Linked DNA regions of Homo sapiens: region 1 is linked to region 2. Evidence: fine-mapped expression QTL. Tissue or cell type: sun-exposed skin. Region 2 holds a variant in brackets; the other region holds the start of a gene. All regions are shown on one strand. Distances are from middle to middle.

Region 1 (8,105 bases), 130 kb before region 2:
ACAAATACGCTTCAGCAAATACAGTTGTCTCTTGGTATCTGATTGATTCCAGGATCCTAGCGAACATTGAGCTCTGCGGATCCTCAAGTCCCTAATATAACATGGCGTAGTGTTTGCATATAACCTATGCAAATGTAACCTGTGTAACATCCTCCCATACGCTTGAAATCATCTCTAGATTATGTATAATACCTAATACAATGTAAATGCTGTACAAATAGCCGTTATACTGTATTGTTTTAAATTTTGTATTATTTTTTGATTTTTTAAAAAATTTTTCCATCTGCAGTTGGTTGAATCTGTGGATGTGGAACCTGAGGTACCGGTGGCCAAATGTACAGTGTGCTAATATAAAAATTAGTAAAGGAGGGTTAGGCTGTCCTGAGGCTCGCAGTCCGGTGTGGGAGACAGAAGATTTAGTGGAAAGTCCCTGTGGAGCTTAAGTGTTGGGCTGGGCCATTCTAGGGGTGTTCAGGGCACCTTGGAAGTACCTCAGTGTGCTCGCCGTCTCTCCCTCAGACTGCTGCCCTCTTGGGCCAGATATTGTGTCTTCAACTTGGTACCAAGTTCCCAGCAAGTGCCAAGCCAAGCCCATGGCAGGAAGCGAATTATTTTTTGTTAACTGAATGCATGAGTCTTAGAATGGAACCTGACTGTGTCACAAGCATGATAGGAACATGTTGGGGGCAGGGAAATGTTTTCAAAGTTGTGGAAACCTTTGCAGAATGAATAGGGCCACGCTCCATATTTTGCTCTTTGCAGGACTTTAAGGAAGTGTGTCAAATGCCCACAGGTAGAGCTGGAAAATGTGGCCTTTGCTAAAGATGCAGAAGAGTCTAGAGACGCACAACGGCTGGGTCATTGGTGGTGAGGGACTTTATTTGCAGTGAACTTGGAGCTAGGAAGGAAGTTACTGCTGGGTGGGTCCTCAGTGACGGAGGTCTGCTTACACGTTTGCCAGGTTTTCAGGCCAGCAACATGATTCTGTCATTTCTCTTGGGCTTGTCTGATCATGAAGTAGTGATTTTTGAAAAATCCTTGGACCTGGTGTGAGGATCAAAGACTCCCTTCCTCCGGACAGTGTTGGAAAATCCTGGAAAAATGCTTCCTCTGGGGCCCTGTGTATTTTCTATCTGGGAAAACCATGATGAGCAATCAGATAAAGAAATATTTTTGTGATATGTTGTGACTTTCTTAAAGTAATAAAGTAGAAGAGATTTTAAATGAAAAATATAGGTAATTGCAAAATCTCTTGATTCTTAGCTATTTCTGAACAGATTTCATGCCCCACCCCCCCATACAATTTTTAGTGGGGGAAAGAGGAGAAAGGAAAGGAAAAGCTAAAATAACCTTGTTTTCATAGTTCTGTGTTTTTATCCTTTCCTAAACCCATTTTCCATCGCTGGTCACATGATTTGGATTGAAAGGACGTTTCCTCTAGGCCTCGGAGCACAGAGGCAGCTAACATGTTTGCACTATGCCATCATGGTCCACGTTTACTCAGACACTTTCTTGCAATGGCACTGACAACGATGCCCCCATTTGTTGCCTTAAAATTCATGGGTATGGCCAGGCACAGTGGTTCACGCCTGTAATCCCAGCACTTTGGGAGGCTGAGGCGGGAGGATCACCTGATGTCAGGAGTTCGTGACCAGCCTGGCCAACATGGTGAAACCCCATCTCTACTAAAAATACAAAAATTAGCTGGGTATGGTGATGCATGCCTATAGTCCCAGCTACTTGGGAGGCTGAGGCAGGAGAATCGCTGGAATTGGGAGGTGGAGGTTGCAGTGAGCCAAGATCACGCCATTGTTCTCCAGCCTAGGCGATAGAGCAAGACTCCACCTCAAAAAAATAAATAAGTGGATAAATAAATAACAGCTTTTTGTTTAATCAATTGTCTCTATCATTATAAAGTTTTCTATATCATTGATTTATTCTCTAATCTTTATTATTTCTTCTTTTCTACTGATTATGTGTTCAATGTATTTATACTTTTTCTAGTTTTTGAAGGTAGAAACTGAGGTCATTGATTTGAAGCCTTTCTCCTCTCCTAATATAGGCATTTCATGCTGCAAAATTTCCCCAAAGCTGACTTAATAACATCCTACAAATTTTGATGTTTTTATTTTCATTTTTTATTAATTTCAAAATACATTCTAATTTCCCTTTTGATTTTATAATATTTTTATAAGTATTATTCAGTTATAAAAAGAAATAAAGTACTAACAAATGCTACCTGGAACCATCAAGAATGACCCTTGAAAACATTATGCTAAGTGAAAGAAGGCAGTCAGGAAAGACCACATATTGTATGATTCAATTTGCATGAAATCTTCACAGTCGGTCAATCCGCAGGGCCAGAAAAGAAATCTGGAGGTCGGAGCCTCTCCCAGAAGCCAGGGGTTGTGGGAAGGAGGAAATGGAGAATAATTGCTAATGGGTATCACAGTTCCTTTTAGGGTGATGAAAACCTTCTGGAGTTAGATAGTGGTGAGAGTTGGACAGCTTTGTCAATATACCAAGAACTATTGAATTGTATGCTTTAAAAGGATGCATATTATGGTCCGTGAATTGTCTTTTAATAAAGGTTTTATTTTTAAAAACAAGCTAGGCACCTAGGGTGTCAAATTGAAGGAGGCTCTGATTCTCAGGGCCGCGCAAATGCAGGGTTGGCACCTATGCGTGTGGCCCTCCTGAAATTTTGTGCCTTAGGCACCTGCCTTGCTTCTCCCTAATTCAGGCCCTCAGGAGAAAGCTCTAATTCTGGTCAATTTGAAACAGGAGGGCACGGCTTCTGGGCGACGCTCCGTGCTCCAGAGAGAGCCATTTGTCTGTTCCCTTCCTCTGGACGTCACCGTGCCAACATGAAATGCTTCCAATTGAGTCCAGCCTGAGATGGAAGGGGGTGGGGGGATATCTGATGACATCACGAACTGCTGCATCAACTCCCCCGAGTCCCTGCCTCTGGACCCCCTGATAGAGGACACAAGGAGTGTCCTGAGCCCGTGTGACTCAGTGTCTCTTCCCATCACTTTGCGGGAAAATGGGGCTGCTTACACCACACCGCAGCCCAAACACCTGTGGCTAGAGAAGGGCTTGGGTACTAGGAGTGAGGACGCCTGGTTCTGGGCCCAGGACTAGTACTAGTTAGTGGTGGGACCTGGAACAAATGCTTTGGTTCTAAGTGAATCCCCCATATTCATGACAAGAGGCGTGGAACACAGACCCATGGGACCTTCCCACTGGAACACGGAGCTTGGCTGTCACCCGACCTTCGCTTCCTTAAGTACAAAAGCCCAGGGTTCCAGGCTCCGTCTCCTTTCCCGCAGACGCCTTGTTTCTTCGCGCGGAGGCCCTGGACGCCGCAGGCTCCCAACCTACTTCTCTGGGCTGTCAGGTTCTGAACCCGGTCCTGAAGAGGCCCTGGCGCCGGGGGTGGGTGAGGCCGAGCGCGCGCCTTGGGAACCTGGCCGGCCTCAGGCTGGCGGGAGCATTGGCGGACATCGCCCCGGGCGGGGCGGACTGGGGGGACCCTGACCTGACCCTGCTCCCAGCTCTGACCTCGGCCACCACGCGCGGCGCCCCCGCTGGTCCCGCCAGGCTCCGCCTAAACGCAGAAAGCGTGGGAGGCGCCCGACCCTGCGGTATAAAAGCGGTGCCTGCAGAGGCCCTAGCGGGAGTCCGCGGCGAGCGCAGCAGCAGGGCCGGGTCCTGCGCCTCGGGGGTCGGCGTCCAGGCTCGGAGCGCGGCACGGAGACGGCGGCAGCGCTGGACTAGGTGGCAGGTGAGGGCGTCCCCGCGCACGGCTGGGGTAGGGGACGGGAGTGGCGAGCTTCAGGTCCACCGGCTGCCACCGAGTGATGGGACCGGAGGACAGGAGAGGTCGCTCAGCCAAGAGCCCCGGGGAGGCGGTGCCTTCTCGGTGGGGTCAGCAACGGTCTCTGGGGGGTGCCTGGGAGCGGCAGCCGGTCTCCGCCTTGGCGGCCCACAGCCACCGCGGACGCCTCCCTCCCGGATGTCTCCTCGCTGCCCTTCCCTGGCCGAAGCCCTCCCCTGCAGCCTCCTCCCCACCTGCCGGCCCTGTGTTCTCACTGCTCTTCTCTGCTCTGGGATCCGCAGGATGACGTCTGTCCTGCTTCTTCACTGTCCTTTACAGTCACCAGTCTCGGCCGGGCGCAGTGGCTCACGCCTGTAATCCCAGCACTTTGGGAGGCCAAGGCGGTCGGATCCTTGGAGATCAGGAGTTCGAGACCAGTCTGGCAAACGTGGTGAAAACCGGTCTCTACTAAAAATACAGAAATTAGCCGGGCATGGTGGCCCACGCCTGTAATAATGTCAGCTATGTGCTGAGGCAGGAAAATCACTTCAACTCGGGAGGCAGAGGTTGCAGTGAGCTGGGATTGCGCCACTGCACTCCAGCCTGGCAGACAGAGTGAGACTTCGTCTCAAAACAAAAAAAAGAAAAACACAAAAAAACCACCACCAACAACAACAAAAAAATAAAGCCACCAGTCTCGGAGTTTCAAATCTGAGCACTCTTATCCATCTTAATTCTTTCAATAATTCAGCTAAACGAATGGGGTCCTGAGAATCTGCAGAGCCAGGCTCAGCGCTCGCCTGCAGAGCCTGCGGTCTGTGGGGACCACCAGCAAGATGAGGAATCACCTTCGGGAGGAAGGGTCGTGCTGGGGAGGGTCGCGCCGGCGGGGTCAAGAGAACCTCCTCCAGGGTGGGAATCAGAGCCTCCGGGCCGCGGTGTTTGAGGGTGAGTGGAATTAATGCCGTGATGGACATGGGGCCTTCTAAGGGGGACCAACAGTGTTTGTGAAGAGTTGACTTTGGGAGGGGTTCAGGATGGCCAGAGGTGGAGGCTGTGACCTCAGTGAGTCTGGATCAAGGGAGGGGGCAGGTGGGTAAGACACCGTTTTAACAAGGTGGCTTTGAGCGGCCACCTTTGAGGGGCCTAAGGGCCCCTGGGAGATTTAGGAGGAAGGACAAGAGGATTAAGACACCGCTTTCTGAGGTGCCGTGTGGCTGTGGCGTGGGGGTGGCTGGGGGAGTGGGTTGTGTTCATTGTCCAAGGCTCTCCAGCGCTTTGCGTGGCGTTTTGGGGAGCACAGATGAGGTGTCCCGACAGTGGGGAGTGGCTCTAGGGAGACCAGAGGCTCGGGAGGGGGCCTGGGCATTAGACCAGGCACAGAATCCGAAGTGGGAAGAAATGTGGGCGTAGAGGGCAGGCCTTGGGGATGGGTGTGGGGGAGGAGGGGGAGATGGAAAGGAGTCAGGGAGGTCTCCCAGGCTCACCTGGAGGAGTCAGGGTCTCATTTCCAAGTGCACTGGGAACTGCAGCCTGGGGGTGGGGGTTCATTTGGTTTCAGGCCTGTGGCCAAGAGACCCACCCCCTCACATTCACACTTTGGTCTCCAGTGGCTTCACAGGCACCACCTCCTTGTTCTCGCCTGTTTTACTCCTCACCTTGGGCTGTTTCTTGCCTTTCCATTCTGGCGTTCTGCAGGGATCAGATCCTTCCTCTCACGCACAATCTACACTCATGGCTTTTGCTGGGAGTAATGAGTAAAGCTCCCAAATAGATGTTTCTGAGTTAGGAAGCACATTAAAAACAAAACAAAACGAAGCAAAACCACACAATTGTCCAAGTCCCACTCTGTGTTCAAGGGTCACATGATGTGCAGAAGCTGGTGATGGGCAGGAGCTCTGAATGGAGTTACTGGGATGTCAGGCCGCGTGGGCCTGGGGCAGGCTGGCTGACTGGGAGCAGCCTGGCTCCACCCCGGCTGTCCAGGACGCACTCACTTGCCTCTATGGATGACAGCTCCTTGCCTCACAGCTGTCTGTCTCTGGGTCAGATTCAGCATCTCAGTGTCTTTTGTGTATCAGCTGAATGTCAGGGAGGCCACAGGCTGGTGCCCAGTTGAAAATCTCACAAGGACTCTTTGTAAATGCATGCAAGAATAAGAACAGCATTTTCCTCCTCCTCCCTGACCCCATTCTCCTCCTCAGATGGGACGATCTGGTCCTTACGGAAAGAATTGGAGTTCACTGCTTCCAGCTCTGTGTGTGTGTGTGTGTGTGTGTGTGAGAGAGCGAGCTCTGCAGGCGAGCCAGTTCTGTTGCTATTGCTGGTTTGAGCTGCTGCCATCACCACACTTAGCTAATTACCTTAACATTTGCACTTAATTTTTGGCCGGAGACTAACAGAAAATAAATTTTTCTCCAATTTAAAATACTTACGAACTTTAAGAAGAAAACAAAAAGTACGATTCCAAAATTGCCCTGTAGTAAGTAGGTCAGTAACATTCAGGGAGTGTGGAAACTGCATTTCTCTTTATTCTTCCCTTCCAGGCCCTGCATCATGGAAACTCTTTCTAATGCAAGTGGTACTTTTGCCATACGCCTTTTAAAGATACTGTGTCAAGATAACCCTTCGCACAACGTGTTCTGTTCTCCTGTGAGCATCTCCTCTGCCCTGGCCATGGTTCTCCTAGGGGCAAAGGGAAACACCGCAACCCAGATGGCCCAGGTAAGCTTGCCCGTCCGCCAGGAGCAGGGACTGGCCTGGGCTGCGTGTTCTGTCACCAGCTTCACACTCACACTCCAGAGCCACTGAGAAAGGAGGGCAGGACTGGGGCCCGAGTGTGCACTGGCCGTTTCAGGGAGGCGGGGTCCACTGGGGAAGAAGTGGGGCAGGGCAGGGAGGCAGGAACTCTGCTCCACCGAGATTTATTTGGGGGAAACTTTCCTCGGTTAATCCCTTGGAAAAGACCATCCAAGCTGTCTTGTCCTAGCGCAGAATCTTTCTTTAGAAAATGACACTGAAATTATTTGAAACATAAGTTGCAAAGAACTACCTCTTTTTTGGAGCAAGAGACTTTGTAACTAAACTTTCATTGGTAAGGAAGGTTAATACCTGTTTCAAGTTGTTTCTGTACCAACAGCTCAGGGAGGGCATCAACAGAAATTTGCAAGAAGGATTCCAGGGCAAGTGCTTCATTACAGCTGCACACTGTGCAGGTACTGCTCAGCTCAGTCTCACCAACATTCAGAGAACCTGTGGAAATGATTCAAGATCAGTGCTTGTCCCCAGACCTTTGTGGAAAGGAGAGGAGACATACACGTGAGATGAAACCGAAAAGCGCCATCCCTGAGTGCAGGCCGCTGGACACGCCTTCATCATGGGAGTTGTCCTTTGTTCAATATGACTGTCTTTTTCTTTGATGACGCTTTTCAATAGTGAATTACTCATTTTAATAATTTCCCAGCTCATTGTGTGAAGAAGGGAGGGTTTATGTGTAAAGGCTACCAGCCTTAATAATAAGCACAGAGAGGCTCTCTAAAAGATATATATATTTGGAAATAGGGCATTGCAATGAAAATACGCATGCCATGGCAAGCTATGTGCACATTCAGGGAGGTGAAATAACACTAAGATTTTTAAAGGAAAAAGTAAAGAGGATTACATAATTCCTTTGAAATAATTATTTTTGGCAAAAAGATCAATAACGAAGGTGATGTCAGTGTGAGGTTGGATGGGGAGTTCCTGGGTAGATGTCCTTGCACAAGTATTTTGTTGTGTAAGGCTGTGATGGCCTTTGTGCAAGAGCGTAGGTTTTTAGAGTCCTTTGTGATAGTTGTGTTATCAGGCATTCAAGCGTGAGAACCCTCTCTTCATGGCCTTCCCTGTCTGTTTGTCAAAGGTTTTTGGTTTTGTTTTTTTAATATTAGTGACTCCATTTTGATTCTGAAGTTCCTTATGCTGAAATCTGTATGATCTTTTTCTATGTTTTAGGCTCACTGATAAACCCTTATAGAAAGCTTTTTTGAGAGCACCAAAATTGTCTGGGTACCTTCTTAGGTGTGAGACTGAGCTCTCTCCATGGCTCCAGTGTTCAACTGGATGCTTGTGAGACACCAAACATACTGAGTACACGTTGCTACCTGTAACATGCAGGGAAGCGTTAATGGCAGCAGAAATATTTTAAAGAATTATTTATTTTTCCTTCATTATATAACTGGTAAAAGTCCACTATAAAAATTTTTAAAAAATAAAAGTAGAAGGGAGGAAAAAATCCCTATGAATCCAT
Region 2 (8,105 bases):
GGCAGAGCCCCAGATGCTGCCGCTTCCATAACATCAGAGTGAAAGCAAAGCAAAACAAAACTGACTTTCTCCACAAAGAGAGAAGGTACATTTCAGATGACGACGTCTTTCTGTTTAATCCCATGGAGGCACATGTCTTTCCAAATTACATTATACTTGGTAGGGGTCTGTAGTGGGTTGAATAGTGACCCCAAAAGATGTAAGTCCTAATCCCTGGAACCTGTGACTGTGACTTTATTTGGAAATAGGGTCTTTGTAGATGTAACTAAGGGTCTCAAGATGAAATCATCCTGGATTTAGAGTGTACCTTAAATCCAATGACAAATGTCCTTACAAAACACAGAAAAAGAGAAGACGTAAGGACACAGAGAAGAAGGCCACCATGTGAAGATGGATGTAGAGACTGGAGTGACATAGTCATAAGCCAAGGAATGCCAAGGGCCATCAGATGCTGGATGAGAGCATCGCCTTGTTGATACCTTGATTCTGGTCTTCTGGCTTTCAGAACTGTGAGGATAAAGCTCTGTGTTCTGAGCCACCCAGTTTGTGGCAATTGTTACAGCAGCCACAGGAAGTGCATCCAAGGACCATGAGATCTGTGGTTCTGGCTGCTGGTGCTTTTATGGCATTATTTTAATGCACCCTTGTATTAAAACAGCTATGTTAATGTACTGTATTAATGTACTTAAAAAATTTTTAAATAAAAAGATTGACATCTACTCTATACCAACCATTTATTCTGGCCAATCCCTTGTATTCTGGAGTTCCACTACCTTTCTTTCTATTCAATGGCACAAAAGGTTATTTAAGACACTTTAAACTTTTATAAAAAGAAGAATCCATAGCCACCTTGTTTGGGGGCCAGCTTGTCAGGGGCTCTCCTCTCCAGATGATTAGAGAAAAGCCCCACACCCAGTTACGCCACAGCCCTTACCCAGGGACAGACGCCACTTTCTGTCTTCCAACCACCTCTCGGAACTCAGCCTAGCTAGGCAGAGGGCAGTTATGGCTTCTCATTTCACTCTCTTGATCTCCAAAGACTTGTATACTCTATCTGGTTCACAAATAATTGATTCTTTAGGAGTGTTTTTGACTATGTATATATTCTATGACCTAGGAATCTATATTCCTTCAAAGCAGCAAGTAGTGCAGGATGACGAAATGCTAGCTTACTTTTTCATTTTCAGCAGCACAAGCTCATTCTTCGTATCATGAATCATGGACATTTTTTTCCTGGCCTCCAAAATTAACCCAGAGCAGACAGAATCTTCACTGTTTGTATCATGTGATCCAAATATTTTTGGGAGAGCAAAATACCTGAACACTACTGCTTAGCCATACAAACCAAAGCAACTATGGCGTAGACAATGAGCTTTCTATTTCACTCAGTTAAATTCTGCTTATCCTTCAAAACTCAACTCCGCATCCCCTCATCTAGGAGGTGAAATACTGGATTTCACATATTCTGAATGCTGCTTCTCTACGCCCACTGCACTTGGCGTATAAGCGTGGCACTGGAAGTGGACCTGCTCCCCTAGCCTTCATCATACTGCGCTCCCTCTGAAGGCACAGGAACAAGCTTTTCAACCCTCAGCCAATGCCTAGCATATGCAGGAGCTTCAATTTTGACTGAATAATAACTACAGGAGGGAATTTTTTTTTAAAAAAAGAACACTTATTTCACTTTAATGGGAATTTATCACTTACATGAGTATACTGTGTGACAACTCACAATTCCTCAAGTGCAATCAAGAACGGCTAAGCGGCAGCTTGATTAGTTTCCAAATCCAGTGCCCTGCTCACCTCCTCTCACGTGCAGTTCAACAGCCTGGGACTTCTCTGTAAATGTTCTAGTTGCTATCTAGGGCACCAAAACATGACACAAGAATACAAATGCACACCAATAGCTTCCTGGAGAGAGAAAGTAAGTATATGGGGTTGGAAGTCTTTTCTTTCAACTAGATTAGTGTCACCAAATCTGATTTATATGCACAAGGATGTATATAGAGCTGTCAACAGGGATTGGAAAGCAAAATTTTACCTAAAACAACTAAAAGACATCCCAATCCACTCTTAATTATCCCTGACAGTTGGGGTGGCAGGTACTTGTATTCGGAAATCACTTGTAAGAGTTCTTTCTGTGGCCTATGATATCTCCTAACTTAACTTCTTGTTAGAATTGCTAACAAGTTGACCAATTAATGGTTTTAAGCTTAACATTCTTTCATTTTACTCTGCTTGCTGCTGATGAAAAGGGCAATAGTATTAAAGAAAAAGGCTCTTGATACCTGGGTAATTATCCCTTATGCTGGATAATGCAAAACATATTAAACTACTTTTCTCATATCGAAAGCTAGGATTTATTCATTTCCAAACCATTCACAAAGCACATAATGTGTGCCAGGCACTGTGCTGGGGATATGAACAGGGACAAGCTCCTGTCCTCACAGTCTTCCCAGGAAAGCGGGGGACACAAGATAGCAAATATAATTGGGATCAAGTCTAAGCAAGCGGTAGTGGAAATAGTAAATCATTTACTGGATATGGGAAGTTTTCTCTGAAAAGCAATTTTAGCAGATAAACAATCTCTAGCTCATTGTTATATCAGTTTCAATAACTAAATCTTAATTATTTCACTTGATCTTCTCAAACTTTAATGTGCCTGCAAATCACCTGAGGATTTTTAATAATAAAATATAGAAATTCTTCTCACAAGGATGAGCTCCTTGGCTGCCGCCTTTCTCATTTCCTTTAAATTCCTGCACGGCAGTGACTGGGGAGAGGTGAAAAAACCTGAGGGTATCTGAGTAACAACTGATTATTATTGACTTCATGTCATCAATATTAATTATTGATTTCATGTTCTATTTCATGAACTGATGACATGAAATCAATAAAAATCACCCCAGACAAGTACACATGCAGAATATTAAGTTGCAGATACATTACGATAACCAGTACACAGAGCAAAGAACACACAGAAACATGAAACATGTTAGGATTTCCCCCCTTTTCTTTCAATTTGTCTTTACCATGTGGTTCTATGCGTCTGTAATGAGAATTCTGTTACGGGAAACCTACACATGAGTATCCCACATCTGAAGTGCCTGGGACCAGAAGTGGTCTGAATTTCCTATTTTTTTGATTTTAGAATATTTGCATTATATACTTACCAGATGAGCACCCAAAATCCAGAAATCTGAAGTGCTCCAATAAGCATTTCCTTTCACAGCATCATGAAGGTGCTCAAAAAGCTTTAGATTTGGGAGCATTTTGGATTTCAGATTTGGGATACTCAACCTGTACTACATATGAGGAGCTGGCAGCCCCCTTAGGCTCTGACAAATGCCCACCACATAAAGCACTTCTGAGTATGAGTCCATGTGGCTGATACCACAGGTTCCACACACTGCTTGTGGCCACAGATGTAATGGCTATCCCCATCACAACGGTATTCCAAAACAAGGCCACTCTGTCCTACCCAGTGGTCCACGGGCCAAATGTTTCAATGCTTTCATTAGACACAGCAGAATTCTCCCTCCATCTCAGACAGGAGCAAATGGGGCCAGACACATAGGGAGAGCCTGGTGAAACCTAAACCCTGAGCCTAAACTATGCCTTGTACTTTAATCCTCACAGAAAAGTGGCTCCAGAACTTGGCCTCAGGGCAGGCACGAGCAGCTGCAGAGTCCACAGCAGGAGGAGGTGGGCAATAGCCTCTCATCACACCAGATTATGTTCCATGGCAGTATTTCAGCCAACGTATGAACAAATACCA[T/A]CTGAAGAATATGTTCTAATATTAAAAAAAAGGAAAACCCCTGACCCAAGAAATCAAATTATCTATGATATACACTTGGTGCATTAACGAGCTCATGTGGTACTCATGATGCAGAAATAGGTCACTAAAAGGATAGGGACAGCCTATAATGTCATATTCAGTTAACATTCCTTTACTTTCATGAAACTGAGTTTCAACTACACAAAAAGGATTACATAATTTTAAGGTTACAAGTTAATTTTTACTTGATTTTTTTTTTTTAACAAAATGCTAAACTGCAGGTTAAAAAGAAATTGAAACATGAGTACAATGCTCAAAAGAGTTGTATGGTAAGTCTAGAAAGTATTTATCTATCTATTTGTTCTATTCAATGAGGGACATAAAGCCTTTCAAATCATCAATAAGGCTTCCCATAGAAGCCTAAGCACAAAAGCAAACACCCAAGAACCAAAACAACAAAGCAAAGTTAAAGCTTGAAGAATTATAGAAACACATATTAGAGGCTGGAAAATGCATCTTCAAGTGTGCAGGGATAACTTTGTTAGGTATAATCGAACATTTCCCTCCTCTTTTATTTTCATTACGGGCGGATCAACATTTCTTCTCTGTCCCCACCCTCTCCTCACTGACGCCCGGCCCTTTCTGGCCCCCTGCCAGGAGACTCTCTGGGAGGTGTGTGCCCCCAGGACGCTGCACACTGTCAACTTACTCTGAGCTGCTGTTGCTGCTGTGGCTCAGAGGGTCAGTGGGACGGCTAGAGTCTAGGACGTGGATTCCCAGGGAGTTGATCGCTCGCATTAAAATAGTCACCATTGCCTCTACTGGAAGCTTCTCAAGAACAATCACTCGACAGCGGCTCAGAAGAGCAGCGTTGACCTGGAAGGAAGGGTTTTCAGTGGTTGCCCCAATCAGAGTGATCGTCCCACATTCCACGTGAGGAAGGAAAGTGTCCTAATCATGGGAGGAAAACAGAAAAAAGTGATTCCAGTCAACAGCCACCTGCAGAATCCTATGTAAGTTGGCTATCCCTTCCTTCCTTTTCCTCATTTTTATCTTTCGAGTTCAGGAATAGCAGCAGCCTTATATTCACTGAATATAGATGCAATATTTGGGGGAGTACAACTCTTGCTTTTAAGTCTGAAACACATCTTCTGGAATGCCCGTCCAAGCCTGATCTCTTGCTGGTAGACTAATAGCTTTAAGTAGAATTCTAGCTTAGTTTCAACATAAATGATTTCTTTACTCAGAAAACCATCTTCTACCAAAGGCTGAACTGGCACATAGCTTATATGTAACAGCTATTTATTTATAGACAAGAACACACAAAAACATTAACACTTCCAGAATCTTCTTCCACAGCAAGCACTCAATCATATTATTATTATTCCTATTATGCTGTTTTATGGGGAAAAAATACTAAGATGAGTCAGTGGTCCAATATGAAACCTAGAATGCTAACGCCTCGTCAGAACTTTAAAAGGGTCTTTTTATTCAAAAAGGTTCAAAAAAGGCTCAGTAGAGTTTTGTGAAATATTCTATGTATGATTAAAAAGTTACAAAAAAAAATTTTTTAAAGTTATGCCTAAAAATTTAATTTTTTTTTATTTAGAGTATAGCTCTCAGATCTCAGCCCAATAAAATTTTAATGTTTATTTTTTTTTAAATCCCTAAGTGGCTTTGTTTATAAAAATAGCTTGTGTCCTTTTATTTCAGAAACCCATTTAAATAAACAGTAATCATTAGCTCTTCCAACATTCACCTTGAAGACAGAGCCTGGAGTTACAGAAAATACCGATTGTTTAATTTTCAAAATAAAAATACTGTTAAAGTAATTTTTAAAAACCCATTAAAATAATGACCTTAAAATCATTATTTTACTGTTCACAATGACTCCTAGTATTTAGATTAAAAATTCCTAAAACTGGAAATTTGATTCAAAGGTGCTTTTCTGATACGTATAGCTCAGGGATATGCCAACCATTTCATTTATCAGATAGAGAAAGCATTTTCTTGTTATCAAAAAACACTAAGAAATGTATGGAGAAATAGGCTTGAAGGAGATGGGTTCACAAGCCTACGCTTCTTTGTAAACAAAGCTCGTAAGTCTCTAGCGTTTGTATAGTGATCTCACACACTTTATATTGTTTGATGTTCACAACGACCAAAAGGTAGAAGGAAGTTAATATACCTGCTGAGATTTATTGAACCGATGAATCTCATCAATAAAAAGGATGGTTTTCCTTTTGAAAAAGCTCTTTTCATTTTGAGCTTGTTTTATGACATCTCGCACATCATTTGTCTTGGCATTTGTTGCAGATAATGTCACAAACCTTATGCTATGTTTCTTGCTGTTGCTGGCTATGATGTGAGCCAGAGTGGTCTAGAAAAGATGACATACATGGAGTTTGAAAAGCTGGTAAGACACAGAGAGACCAGCACCCATGGGAACCACCACACGCAGCATCACTATTTACCAAAAGCAACTTGACCTCGGAAGAATGCTGAGCAGCACAGAAACAATCAAAAATACCACAGGACATTTAAAAACAACAACAACAAAAATATTATAAATAAAACAGGAAAGTAGCTAAACCTTAGGCTAATCCTGACCTTTTCTCCTCTGTCCCTAACCACCTTTGATTCCTTTTTGGGTGACTCTTTAAGATCTTTGGAATCCCAGTAAAGAACGGCTGTCTTGATTTAGCAGAGTGACAGCTGTGACCTCTCACCAAAGAGAAAATTCTCCCTCCTCTAGCCGAGACAGCACGGAAGGATCTAGGTGCAGAACTCATCGCAGAACCACAGCCCGAACTGGAAGCTCAGGACAGCTGAGAAAAGGAGAGTGAGGGAGCATTTGCCTTGAGACCAATGACATCCACCTAGCATTTGAGATGACTGTAGGCCACTTCTGCATGTTCACTCTGGTAGGAGATGAAGGGCAGCACTGTGGTCACATTAGCAATTACTAGAAAACCAAGGAGACCCAGGTAAAGCACTTCTTGGGTCCTCAACAAATATGTATATGCTGTTATTAATATGAATGTTGTTATTAGTACTAAAGGATGAGAAGAAAAACTGAAGACTGTTTAATGACTGTGACAAATCTGCACCTAAATGGAAAGGTGGTACTTTCTTTTCTAAAAGTTGTAGAGCACCCATTCTGTGGCTGCTTCTTTCAGAAATCCCCGCCTGCCTGCCTTTTGGAATCAGGCTCGCAAGTCACAGATGCCTAGGCTTGCAAATGACCAACGCCCATCTCACTGAGCAGCCTGGACCACCCAAACCTCTTGCCTGGCATTTGGTAGGTGGGATGAGCTCACCCACTCGTCTCCCTAAGGACCTTCTTGCTGTCTGGGGCCACCAACAGCTGATTATCCATTCTCATGATCTTATGTAAAGACTTCACAATTACTAAGAATGATACTGCTCAATCCCTTAAATGGGGTTAACAACTAAATCCATGGGGACAGACGTCAACAACTCGACCACCATCATCATAAGATGTTATTTGGGATAGATGTGGTTTATTCCTGGCCAAAGGGAAGGCATGAGTGCAAACAAGAAGGCACAAAAAGGGCAATTCATTCCAGGAACTGGAGTTAAAGGGGGTGTGCTTAAGTTGTGGGAGATAAAGCTAGAAAGAAAAATAGGAGAAAAATCATAAAAGCCTTGTGTGCAAACGAGTCTGAATCTCAAAGCTACAAGAACTCTTTACAGTTTGATCCCTGAATTCTCCCTTTCCCTTCCTGATGCTGGTTCTTCTCCCTTATTATGGATAAAAGCATCCTGTATTTAAGCACTTCTTAGCTTTCTCTGTTTTCTGGCTCACCTCCTCCATTTTTTTCTCAAGTGTTTTTCCAATGACATGCTTTCTAGACTCACAATATCCTAACTGCCCTCATCTGGAACGCTAACGCCTCACGAAGGGACACAGAACTGGACACCAAAATGCACGGATGTTTCTTCTCTAGAGTACAAGGCATTATGAGAAAAGTTACGGAAATACCGGATGAAAATGACTTGCAGATGAAAAAGTTTTTATGTTAGTTTTGTAAATACATGAGTATATTTAGTAAAATCAATATATTCTCAAGAATATAAGAATGTTAAATAAACTTATTCTTAAGAATAAATACCAGTCTGTTAAACCAACAACTAGTGGAAAAGGAAGGAAGCACAACAGAATTAATTTGATTTTTTTCAAAGCTGAATCCGTTATTATGTACAAACGGAATATACAAATGTTTCTTTACAATTTAAACATGCTGATTCCTTGCGAATTCGGTTACTAAATCAAAGTCTGGGGAGGGGGCGGGGAGACCGATGG

Evidence for each region. PIP is the estimated chance that this variant, and not a neighbour inherited with it, causes the effect.
Region 1: it holds the start of SERPINB9, and the variant in region 2 is fine-mapped to the expression of SERPINB9 in sun-exposed skin (GTEx, PIP above 0.99).

The regions. Positions count from the first base shown.
Region 1 is chr6:2,898,883-2,906,987 of GRCh38, reverse strand. SERPINB9 (serpin family B member 9) reads left to right here and starts at 3,679. Exons shown (of 7, transcript NM_004155.6): 1 at 3,679-3,787; 2 at 6,367-6,544. The coding sequence starts at 6,377. SERPINB9-AS1 (SERPINB9 antisense RNA 1) reads right to left here. Exons shown (of 5, transcript NR_110841.1): 3 at 7,869-7,959; 4 at 6,932-7,072; 5 at 6,312-6,505. RefSeq lists silencers at 3,484-3,533, 3,634-3,713, 3,954-4,003 and an enhancer at 3,714-4,215.
Region 2 is chr6:2,766,744-2,774,848 of GRCh38, reverse strand. It overlaps WRNIP1 (WRN helicase interacting protein 1), which reads right to left. Exons shown (of 7, transcript NM_020135.3): 2 at 5,967-6,158; 3 at 4,488-4,729. It also overlaps a transcript of MYLK4 not described here. Among named protein-coding and RNA genes, the nearest start is that of WRNIP1, 5.4 kb to the right of the region's middle. The variant T/A (reference allele first, on the strand shown) is at 3,779.